Linked DNA regions of Homo sapiens. The protein of the gene in region 2 interacts with the protein of the main gene of each other region in a biochemical or structural test. Each region holds a gene or a part of one and is shown on either strand. Other genes may lie near its edges.

The links.
Region 1: of the proteins of PLG (region 2) and CHGA, one has a biochemical effect on the other in vitro, tested with the Homo sapiens proteins (one study listed by BioGRID).

Annotation. Positions count from the first base shown.
Region 1 is NC_000014.9:92,933,150-92,935,785, forward strand, and holds the end of CHGA (chromogranin-A isoform 1 preproprotein), read left to right. Parts: intron 1-1,651; coding exon 1,652-1,735; 3' UTR 1,736-2,136; downstream 2,137-2,636.
Region 2 is NC_000006.12:160,697,331-160,705,271, forward strand, and holds the start of PLG (plasminogen isoform 1 precursor), read left to right. Parts: upstream 1-4,913; 5' UTR 4,914-4,974; coding exon 4,975-5,023; intron 5,024-7,941. UniProt on the Homo sapiens protein: Plasmin dissolves the fibrin of blood clots and acts as a proteolytic factor in a variety of other processes including embryonic development, tissue remodeling, tumor invasion, and inflammation. In ovulation, weakens the walls of the Graafian follicle.

The DNA.
Region 1 (2,636 bases), on a different chromosome or scaffold from region 2:
GGGTCTGACCGTGTCCCCTCCTGGCCCCCAGGCAGCCCAGGCACAGCCTCCTCCCAGGCTCAGGCCCTGCCTCTGGCCCATGAGGGTAACGGGGCAGGGCAGGGGCAGGGCCAAGGGATCTCTTGCCTGTGGGGAGTGGGTGGGAGCCACACCGGATGTGAGCTGGAAGACCTGGGCTCTGCCTCCTCTTGGCTGCGTGGACTTGGGAGGGTCACTCCCCTCCCCGAGCCTCATCAGTTCCATTTATGAAGTAGGGGTAAGGAGTCTCCTCTGCCCACGTCATTACCATGATTGGAACACACAAAGGCTTTGAAAACCAGGGCCCCTGGGGAAGACAAATGGGGCGTGGGGACACAGCCCACAGGAGCAGGGGGGAGTTGGGGTCCCTGGCAGCTAGGCGGCTGGGATACCTGGTTCAAGCCTAGTGTCCAGGTAGGAACCCAGGCTCTGTGGGAAGGCTGACACCTGTCCGCAGCCCTGACCCCAAGGCTCTTCTCTGCCCACCTAGAAGAGGGTGTGGCCCCTTCACTGGGCCCCCGACCCCCTCTCTGGGCCTGGCAGTCTGAGAGGAAGAAGGCTCCATGTTGGCAGCTGTAGCGGGAGAGGGCATCTGCCCACGTGCCTGGGAGCCCAGGGCGAGGGGCTGAGGACAAAGCTGGAGAGAATGGGGGCCCAGAGGTGCCACCAGCTTCCTTTCTCCACAAGCAGAGGGAGCTCTGGACCGCAGGGCAGAGAAACTGGACCCCTGAGGCATATGGAGAGGATGGGGTGGGGGCCTCCTCAACACAGCCCAAGGGTCTTCTTAGAAACCCGAGCCTCGCAGAGCACCTGCCCCAGGGCCTCCTCCAAGACTAAGGGGCTGTAGAGTCTATTTCCACGGCCTGCAATGTCGGGGTCCCTGGGCCAGGATGCCCTCGGCAGCCTCAAATCTGGCAGTGACCCCGGGAAAATGACCCCTCCCAGGTCAAAGGAGGCAGCCTTCCCTGCGCTCCTGCTCTAAGTCTTGAGGTTGTGCTCTTGTGGGTGTCCAAGTTCTGAGGCCTGAAAGCTTCTGCAGACGGGCATAGAACAGGGCTCAGAGGAGGGGTCCCTGCTTCCCTAAACTTGGGTAGCCAGAGTTCGGGATCCTCTCACAATCAGGACCAGGGATCAAAGCCCAGCCCTAGGCAGGCTGATGTGGGGCAGCTCCCCCAGCATGTAGCCCTGTCTCAGGCCCCACATTCCCCTCAGGTGGGAAGGCTGCAGAAGACAGACCCGGAAGTCCCAGGCTGGCCTCACCCTGGGTCCTGGCAACCATGGGCTAGGCCGAGGGAAGGGGGCTCTTCAGGGCACTGTAAGCTTTGTTTTCCATGTGCCCTAAAAGAACAGACTCCCACCTGTGCGGAACCATTTGAGAGGAAGTGGGGCCTGGATAAGAGGCCACCAAGAGCAGTGTGGGGACAGGGCCCCCGGCATCAGCCACCTTCTTGTGCATAATGATCCCGAGAGCAGTACAGTAAGCTCATTATCACTGTCTCCATGATGGATGAGGGTACAGAGAGACAAAGCCACCTGTCCGAGGCCACACAGCTAACCCAGCGCCTTTCTGGCTTACTGTGCCTTCCATGCCACTGGCCAGGCTGGCCCGAGTGAACCCCAATGTCTCTCCTAGGACCAGGAGCTGGAGAGCCTGTCGGCCATTGAAGCAGAGCTGGAGAAAGTGGCCCACCAGCTGCAGGCACTACGGCGGGGCTGAGACACCGGCTGGCAGGGCTGGCCCCAGGGCACCCTGTGGCCCTGGCTCTGCTGTCCCCTTGGCAGGTCCTGGCCAGATGGCCCGGATGCTGCTTCCGGTAGGGAGGCAGCCTCCAGCCTGCCCAAGCCCAGGCCACCCTATCGCCCCCTACGCGCCTTGTCTCCTACTCCTGACTCCTACCTGCCCTGGAACATCCTTTGCAGGGCAGCCCCACAACTTTAAACATTGACGATTCCTTCTCTGAACACAGGCAGCTTTCTAGAAGTTTCCCTTCCTCCATCCTATCCACTGGGCACAACTGCAATAACTTCTGACCTTTTGGTGAAAGCTGAGAACTCCTGACTGTAACATATTCTGTATGAACTTTATCTAAAGAAAAATAAATCTGTTCTGGGCTCTTTCCTCTGAATTTTTTCGCCTCTCAACTTAAGAGTGGAGTGAGATGCACTGGATTTGGGCGAAGGGACAAAGGGAGGTTCAGTCCTCCTGGGGACCTCCTTTCTGGGCCACTTCCTGGCTGTGGGATCTTGAGCAAGTGACTTTGTTAGCTCTGAGCCTCAGTTTCCTCATCTGTAAAACGGGAATGCTGACCTGCCTCAAAGAGTGTGTGCAGGGATTAAAGCACACTTGCTGAGGGCCTCCAGGTTCCTTCCTCTCCCCGTCCCCAGCCACACCTGAGCTGGGCCATGCAGAGGCAGCGCCAGGTGGGGACACGGGCTCTGTTTCCTGAGATCAGGTCGCCCCTCCCTGATGGTCCCCGCCATCCAGTCACCTGTGGTGCCGGGTGGAGGCCCTGACAGCCCCAGTCTAGTGCCTGTCGCAGGACACAGGCATCAGACTTGAGCCTCTGAGCTGCAGGGACCCCTTGGCATAACCACTTATTAGGCCCTGCTATGACTTC
Region 2 (7,941 bases):
CCTCAGAGCAGAAGGACCCTCGTCTCTCCTCTGGGGAGTCCTGGTGCCAACTCAGTGCAGGCTGCTAAGTTATCCGGGTCTGACTGTCTTCTTCTCTGCTAAAATTTGTCTTAAGCATGTAACACAGCCATGCTTATTAATGATGAGGAGACAGCCAATGAAAATTAATTTTTTCAAAGATGAATAGATATCTAGATTTTTTCAAGCACAACTCATTTAAGAAAATATCACCTCACTGAGCCCCAAATGAGTTAGGTCTCACTTAGAAAGTGTCCCCTAGTGCCAGGTAAAGTGCCTCATATTTGCAATCCCAGCACTTCTGGAGACGGAGATAGGAGGATCTCATGAGCCCAGGAGTTCAAGACCAGCCTGGGTAACATGGCAAAACCCTGTCTCTACAGAAAATACAAAAAAAAAAAAAATAGCTGGGCGTGGTGGCGTGCACCTGTGGTCCCAGCTACTCTGGAGTCTGAGGTGGGAGAATCGCTTGAATCCAGGAGGTTAAGGCTACAGTGAGCTGTGTTTGCACCACCGCACTCCAGCCTGGGTGACAGAGCCAGCCTCTGTTTCCAAAAAAAAAAAAGAAAGAAAGGAAAAGAAAATGCCCCCGAGTTGATTACATTTTAACCACTGTGCTAACTTGAGAGATAGTCTGCTATCTCTTTACAGGACATGAGGGCTGATAATCACCTCATTGCATGGTCCTGGGGACTGATGAACAAAGGCTAACATGTGGAAAAGGGCAACTAAAGAAAGAAGAGCCACCTCCAGGTTAATTAGTACAAGTCTCCTCGCTGGTATGCCCTAATACACTAAAACAGCAGTAAAAACAATCTGCACATTGGCATCGAAGGCACAGATAAACTTGCCGAGGACCCTTACCACGGCAGAGGGATGCTTTATATGAGTCCTTAGTAGATTAATTAAGTTCTTGCTAGTTCCATTTGGAAATGATGCTGTCCTCTTGGGGCTATGCAGAGAAGTTCATGTTGATGAAATGAGCTGTCCTAGAATGGCAGTTCCCGGGCAGCAGAGCCTGGGCTCAAGGAAGGTTGAAAGAAGGGGTGGCGTGGAGCTGCCAGGTGCAAATGTCAGGCCAGCAATGCAGTCCAGCTTGCATGGACGTGCTTCGCCTAGGAAGTTGTGACTTGGCTGCATTTTCCACTTCAGGTGAGATGGAAGGTTGAACTCTACCTCACCTCCTGGTGAGGTTGATGTTTCCTGGTGTTTATAACTTTCTTTGTAAATACTTGAAAGGAATTTACCATTTTAATGCTGGAAGAGACGTCTATTCCTTCTTAAGAGGACCTGAGTGGATCTTGATTGCAGGCCTTATGCTGGGCAGAGCTAAGGAGAATTCAATTTGTCTCCAATCTTATTTGAATGTTCTTTTTTTTTTTTTTTTTTTTTTTTTTTTTGAGACAGAGTCTTGCTCTCTCACCCAGGCTGGAGTGCAATGGCACGATCTCGGCTCACTGCAACCTCTGCCTGCTGGGTTCAAGCAATTCTCCCACCTCAGCCTCCCCAGTATCTGGGACGACAGGAGCATGCCACCATGCCCTGCTAATTTTTGGTATTTTTAGTAGAGATGGGGTTTCACCATGCTGGCCAGGCTGGTCTCAAACTCCTGACCTCGTGATCCACCTGCCTTGGCCTCCCAAAGTACTGGGATTACAGGCATGAGCCACCGCGCCCAGCCTATTTGAACGTTCCTATGCCTGCTACAAGTGCAGCAGCAGAATCTCCACACATCTTGCGTGCGAAAGTTTCCTGTAGTTCCTTTAGCATAGAGAGGCTGGGGAAGGTTAGAGACTGACTTGTACTCTTTAGACATATAGTTGATCATTGAACAACACACGTCTGAACTGTTACACACAGATTTTTTTCAATAAATGTGTTAGAAAATGTTTTGGAGTTTTGCAACAATTTGAAAAAACTCAAAGACAAACCATCCAGCTAGAAATATCAACAAAAATAGAAAAAGTTAAGTATGTCATGAATGCATAAAATATATGTAGATACCTAGTCTATTTTATTCTTTACTACCATAAAATATAACAAAACTATTGCAAAAGTTAAAATTTAGTAAAAATTGTGTACACACTCACAGATCGTATATGGTGCTATTCTCAGTTGAGAGAAGTGTATACAAACATCAAGATGCAGTATTAAATTGTAACTGCATAAATTTAACCGTAGTGCATACCACACTATGGTAATAATTTCATATCCTCCTCCTGTTGCTGTTGCAATGAGCAAAGGTGTTGCGAGTATCCACTTAAAACGTTCTGTGATACTCAACATTCCATCATGAGCAGTTCATCCCCAGTGAATTGCGCATCACAGTAAAAAGTGCTCTCTCCCTGTTCGCATGTATTTTTCGTCCTGTTTCGTGCTGTACTGTAAACCTTGAATAACACCATGGGATCCAATATGAAGTGGCACTAGTGATGCTGGAAGTGCTCCCAAGAAGCAGAGAAAAGTCATGACATTTGACATTACAAGAAAAACTGGATTTGCTTGATATGTAACAGAGACTGAGGTCTGTAGCTGGGGTTGCTTCCATTTCAGACAGATGATTCATCTTGTAAACAGGTGGTGTAAACTTACTGTATGGAAAAATACATAACAGTACCACAGATGTATTTTCTCCTTACGAACATTTCCTTTTCTCTAGCTTACTTTATTGTAAGAATACAGTATATCATACATATAACATACAAAATACATGTTATTAACTGTTGCTGGTCAACAGCAGGCTGTTAGTAGTTAAGTTTTTGAGAGTCAGAGTTATACCTGGATTTTCTACTGTGTATGGTCAGTGTGCCAACCCCTGAAATTGATCAAGGGTCAACTGTAATCCTAAAAGAATCTAATACAATATTGTAAACAGTAAGTGGTCAATAAATAAGGAATTGAACTAATAAGAATACATAAATCCCAGAATATGTGCAACCTGATCATAGTACACAGAGATCTCTCTATATATCTCTTTTCTTAGTTCATGCTGTTCTTTCAGGTAGAAAGCGCCTTATTTTGAATTAGTTGTCTTTAGAGCAAAAATCCCTCCAAGAGTGCTGTGTGGTTTCCTATGCACAACCTGGAATAGTCCATTGCTTCATGCCTACCCTGGACATGAAGGGCCATGCCGCAGCGGAAGTCTCTATGCACCCACCCCCGTCTATACCTGAGCAACACATTCCTCTTTGCTGCTCTCTTACAGGCTACAGAGTGCGGTGGCGCCAGCACAGAGCTCTGCTCAACGTCCCTCTGTGCTTTCACGATGCTGATGGATTATGAAGGTAGGGAAGAATGTACAGCCAGGAGGCCATTAGGAGGGCAACTAATTTATAAAATCACATTTGTAGAATTTAATGCATCCAACAACTACCAGGGGAAAGGTGGGCAAAAGCTATACCAACACCACCCAAGTCAAAACCAAAACAACAGGAAAAGAAAATTATGTGGATGTAGAATTTCTGATAACATCATTCCCAAGGTGCCTTATCCAAGAGGAACTGCTACAATAATATTTTAAGTGGAAATAAATACATGCTGGAAGCATTATATATTAGTAGAGTATTTTTTTTTCCCAGAGTACTTTCTCAAGCACATCAACATGAGCCCCCTAAGAGACATTTCACATTAAAAATAAAATGTCTGCCCACTGCTGGTTTCTCAATCTGCCTCCACCTTCTGTCCCCTTTAATGAACTGGGCCATGAGGTGAGTCAGAGAGGATAAAGGGAGTGGTAAGAATTTGAGGAGAGAAGAGAGTGAGGCTAAAATAGGAAATCAGGAAAAGCGATTCGGTCCCCCTGTCCCTCACATGGGGCCACCCTCTTGTTGCCCAGTGTGGCTTCTTCTTGAGGGTTCTGCATGGTTCCTCAATCCCAGGGAATTCCGCAGGACATTCCACCCAAGACCATTGGGCTCCCACCTCTACTCTTTTGCCAGTTAATGAATAGGCAGGAATTTCACTGCCTGGAAAGAGGAACAATGCTTTCTGGTCCTTATTTCACATCTAAAATAGAGAGGTCAATTGATTTATTCCTAAATATCTTTGAACACTAAAATAGAAGTTTTACAGCATATATACTACCTGGTTGCTCTAGACTTAAGCCAGGGAAAAGTACAGATTCAACATTTAAAATTGAGATAGACGCTTTCCACTTAATGCTACCAGTCTTGCTTTATTTCATGAGAATGAGAATATAATAATATGGCATACGTTCATTTGGGGGAAAGATTGATGTCTTATAACATAATTTATAATTACAGAAAACATGTGAGTTCACTGGGAATAAATAAATTTTGAAGATAATAAGATACTTTCACTTATGTCGTAATTTCTATGTCATTTGGTGTAGGATGTAGAGATATTAACGTTTACACCTAACTTAAGTTTGTCATCTAAGACCTGAAGGGGTTTTGTCTATCAGCTGCACCCCTGGGTAGAGACACAACCTTGGGGAAGGCCTCAGCCCCATCCCTCGTACAGCAGGAATGAGAACAGCCCTGCCTGTTGGGAAGCTTGAGGGAGGCTATGGACGTGCAGCGCTTGGCAGAGGGTCTCGTCATGGAAGGTTCCAGCAAATGTGAGATACTTTTATGATTTCATTTTCTCCAAAAGAAAGGGAATAAGAGAAGAGGGGAGGAAATAAGACTAATTGCGAGAGATAAAGTACAAGGGTGAGGGAAGGAATAAGGAGACATGACGGCAGCGTGGAGCAGCCGAGGGGGGAGATTGCTTTCACCACTTCCCAGCATCTATTGCAGATTCCACCCTCAAACATGTTGTAAGGACTCTTTATTCAAGGTAATGTTTGAACCCTGCTGAGCCAGTGGCATGGGTCTCTGAGAGAATCATTAACTTAATTTGACTATCTGGTTTGTGGATGCGTTTACTCTCATGTAAGTCAACAACATCCTGGGATTGGGACCCACTTTCTGGGCACTGCTGGCCAGTCCCAAAATGGAACATAAGGAAGTGGTTCTTCTACTTCTTTTATTTCTGAAATCAGGTAAGACATAGTTTTTTTAAATTATAAGAATTATTTTTTCTCCCACAATGTAGTAAAAATACATATGCCATGGCTTTATGTGCAATTCATTTAATTTTTGATTCATGAAACTTCCAGTTGAAAATCTTGTATAAGATTGAGGAATTCTTCAAGAAATAAGTTTAAGTTTCCTGTGAAGATTGTCAGGGTGCTGGAATGAATGGGCAGAGAAAATAATGGGTGATTTTTCAAATCTAAATGAGTGCACCCACATAATGGCCAGTCTAATTGAAAAAGAGCCAATGTAGCTAATTATGCAAAGGACGGCTAAGCTCTTTGCCTGGTTCTCAGTTTGACTAATTTATATCATCTCTGTTACGGTGTCATGCTCCCCTCACTTGCAAGTTAAAACAGTGAAATATCTCTTTGAATATATTCCGTTCTCTCACCAGTTCATGGTGGCGGCAGGGTCGGGGACTCAGCATTTCTCCCTTTGTTATGGCCTGAGGAAGGCTTTCCATCAGTATACGTTTGCCTCTTATCCCCGGAAAAATCACACGCATCCATTTGCCAGATGCTGTGTGCAGATAGTGATCAACAAATACTCAGTTGCTTGGGTTAGGTCCCTACATTTTTACACATACATACATACCTGTGTGTGAATGTGAGTGTGAGTGTGTATCCTTTACAAATACTAGCTTATTTAGCTCGTGGTATAGGTAGGGTAGCATATTCATCCTCATTTTATAAACAAAGAAATCAGACTTAGGAATATCATGTTATTTGCTCAGTGACCAAATTCTCAGATCTGGGAAATAAAGAAAACTGGATTTAAGCCAGGTTTCCCAGAAGGAATCTAGGGCTCTTCTCACTTTTCAGCTTTGTTTAAGCCTTTGAAAGAATATTCTAAACATGTCCTAGTACTTCTTTTTCTTTAAAAAAAAAAAAGCTTTATTGAGATATAATTAACATATAGAATTCACCCATTTAGGCATACAATCCAATGGATTTCAAGATATTGAGAGTTGTGCAGCCACCATCAGAATAAATTTTAAAACTATTCATACCCCCAAAAACGCACTCCACTCTCCTTAGCTGTTACCCCCAATCTGCAGCTTCTGGCAACCACTAATCTACTTTCTGTATTTATATCTTTGCCATTTTGAACATTTCATACAAACGGAATCATACGATTTGCTAGTAGTTCTTCATGTAAATAATGTACGCTTGAAATTCAATCTATAAATTACCAGATAAAATTTTACAAGTTGCACTTTAGAGTCAAATACATTTGAATTTAGTGGAAGCCATTCAAGGAGCTATCAAAGAAAATACAGAGCAGGAGAAAATTAAAGAAATTTTTGTAAGAAATTGGTGTATGTTGGGGGGTATGAATATTATATTTCAATGCATGGAAACTAGGACATAGATCACTATGAACTTATTCAGTGGGCTACACCCAAAGGCTAGATCAAACTTCTCTGCCACAGGATTAACATATGTTTTAACCCACCTGGTGGGCACATTCTCTCATAAGCTCTTTTGGAAAGCCAGGTTTTCTGTGGATGTATCATCTTTCCAGTGTGCTGCAATGCCCGGGGAGAGGGAAAAGTTTCTTTTACAGCCATGCTTAGTGGGAAGTGGAGAAACATCTTCCATTTCACAAATTAAGTCTTTTACACATGCAAATATGCATACACATTCACACACCACAGTGAGGAAGAAATTCTCACACCATTAATAAAATACATTTGCATCAGTAGCAATATACATCTGCATTTTGCCTATAATATAAATGTATTTTTCCACTAAAAGATTTGTTTGATGTTTCCTTGCCAGCAAATAAGCCCTATCAAATCCTATTGCCATATGAGTCCTAGAGGTGAATAAGAGAAGAAAAAATGGGGGAAAATTATTTCAAACTGAAAAGAGAAAAGTTTGATTCTGTTTTGGGATATTTCCTAGGGACATGAGCTGGGGAGGGGATCTCAGCAGCGATGCGCTATGAAGCATAGTAACATAACACAGAGAACTTAATTGAAGGGGGAAATAAATGGAAGTTTTCTTTTTTTGAATATCAGTTGTAGCCTGCTCTGCTATACTTCAAAAAAACTCTTCAGAAAGTTTAACTGAACTCACTGTAGGACACACTTTGTGGATTTATTGTGTGTTTTGAAGTCACACTGTGAGCTATATAGAATTAACCAAAACACAACTCTTCTTGAAAATGAGAGTTCAAGTTGGCAGAAAGTGCGGGGTAAAGACATGGATATGGGCCTAAAGCATCTATTTCTTTGTGATCTTTTGATATATCTCTCAAGTGCTTTTTAGTGGATTAGCTTTAGAATGCATCAGCCAACTCCTGCTCAATAATCCATTTTTCCAGCCCGGAATGTCTTAAATTGAGGAAGGACAAAGTCCCAGAGGTGGGGAGCAGGGGGACTTTGGCCGAGGACTTTGCATGAATCGATGAGCATGCATCCACCTCCCTGTCCTGCCCCTTGTGCTCTGTGTACCCTCAGGAGGTCAGGACAGGCCTTTCTGAGAATGAAAATCTGTTCATTTGCTTTCCTACTGGATACTTGTCATCAGCATACAAACCAATGCGCTCTGCAGTGTGTCATCTTTCAGAACCTCCCCTGACCGCATGTTCCCTGGAGGGCTCGCTGTCTTCAGAGCCAGGCTTGTCTCCTGCTGCAGCCTCCACTGCTCTCCTAGTCACTCTGTAACCCACCCCCTCTGCCTGCGGCCCCCACCACGCCCCTCAAAGTGGTCAAGGTTGTCCTGTTGTCTAATTCCATGGAGCTTGCCTGTCTTCATTTTATTAGCCTCTTTTGGCCTCTCACCCTTGTGCAAATCACTAGCATTCTGTGCCAAGGACGGAGCTGGCATCTCCAGGCTTGGAATAGAGCTACCAAAGCTCAGCCAGATGTCTGGAA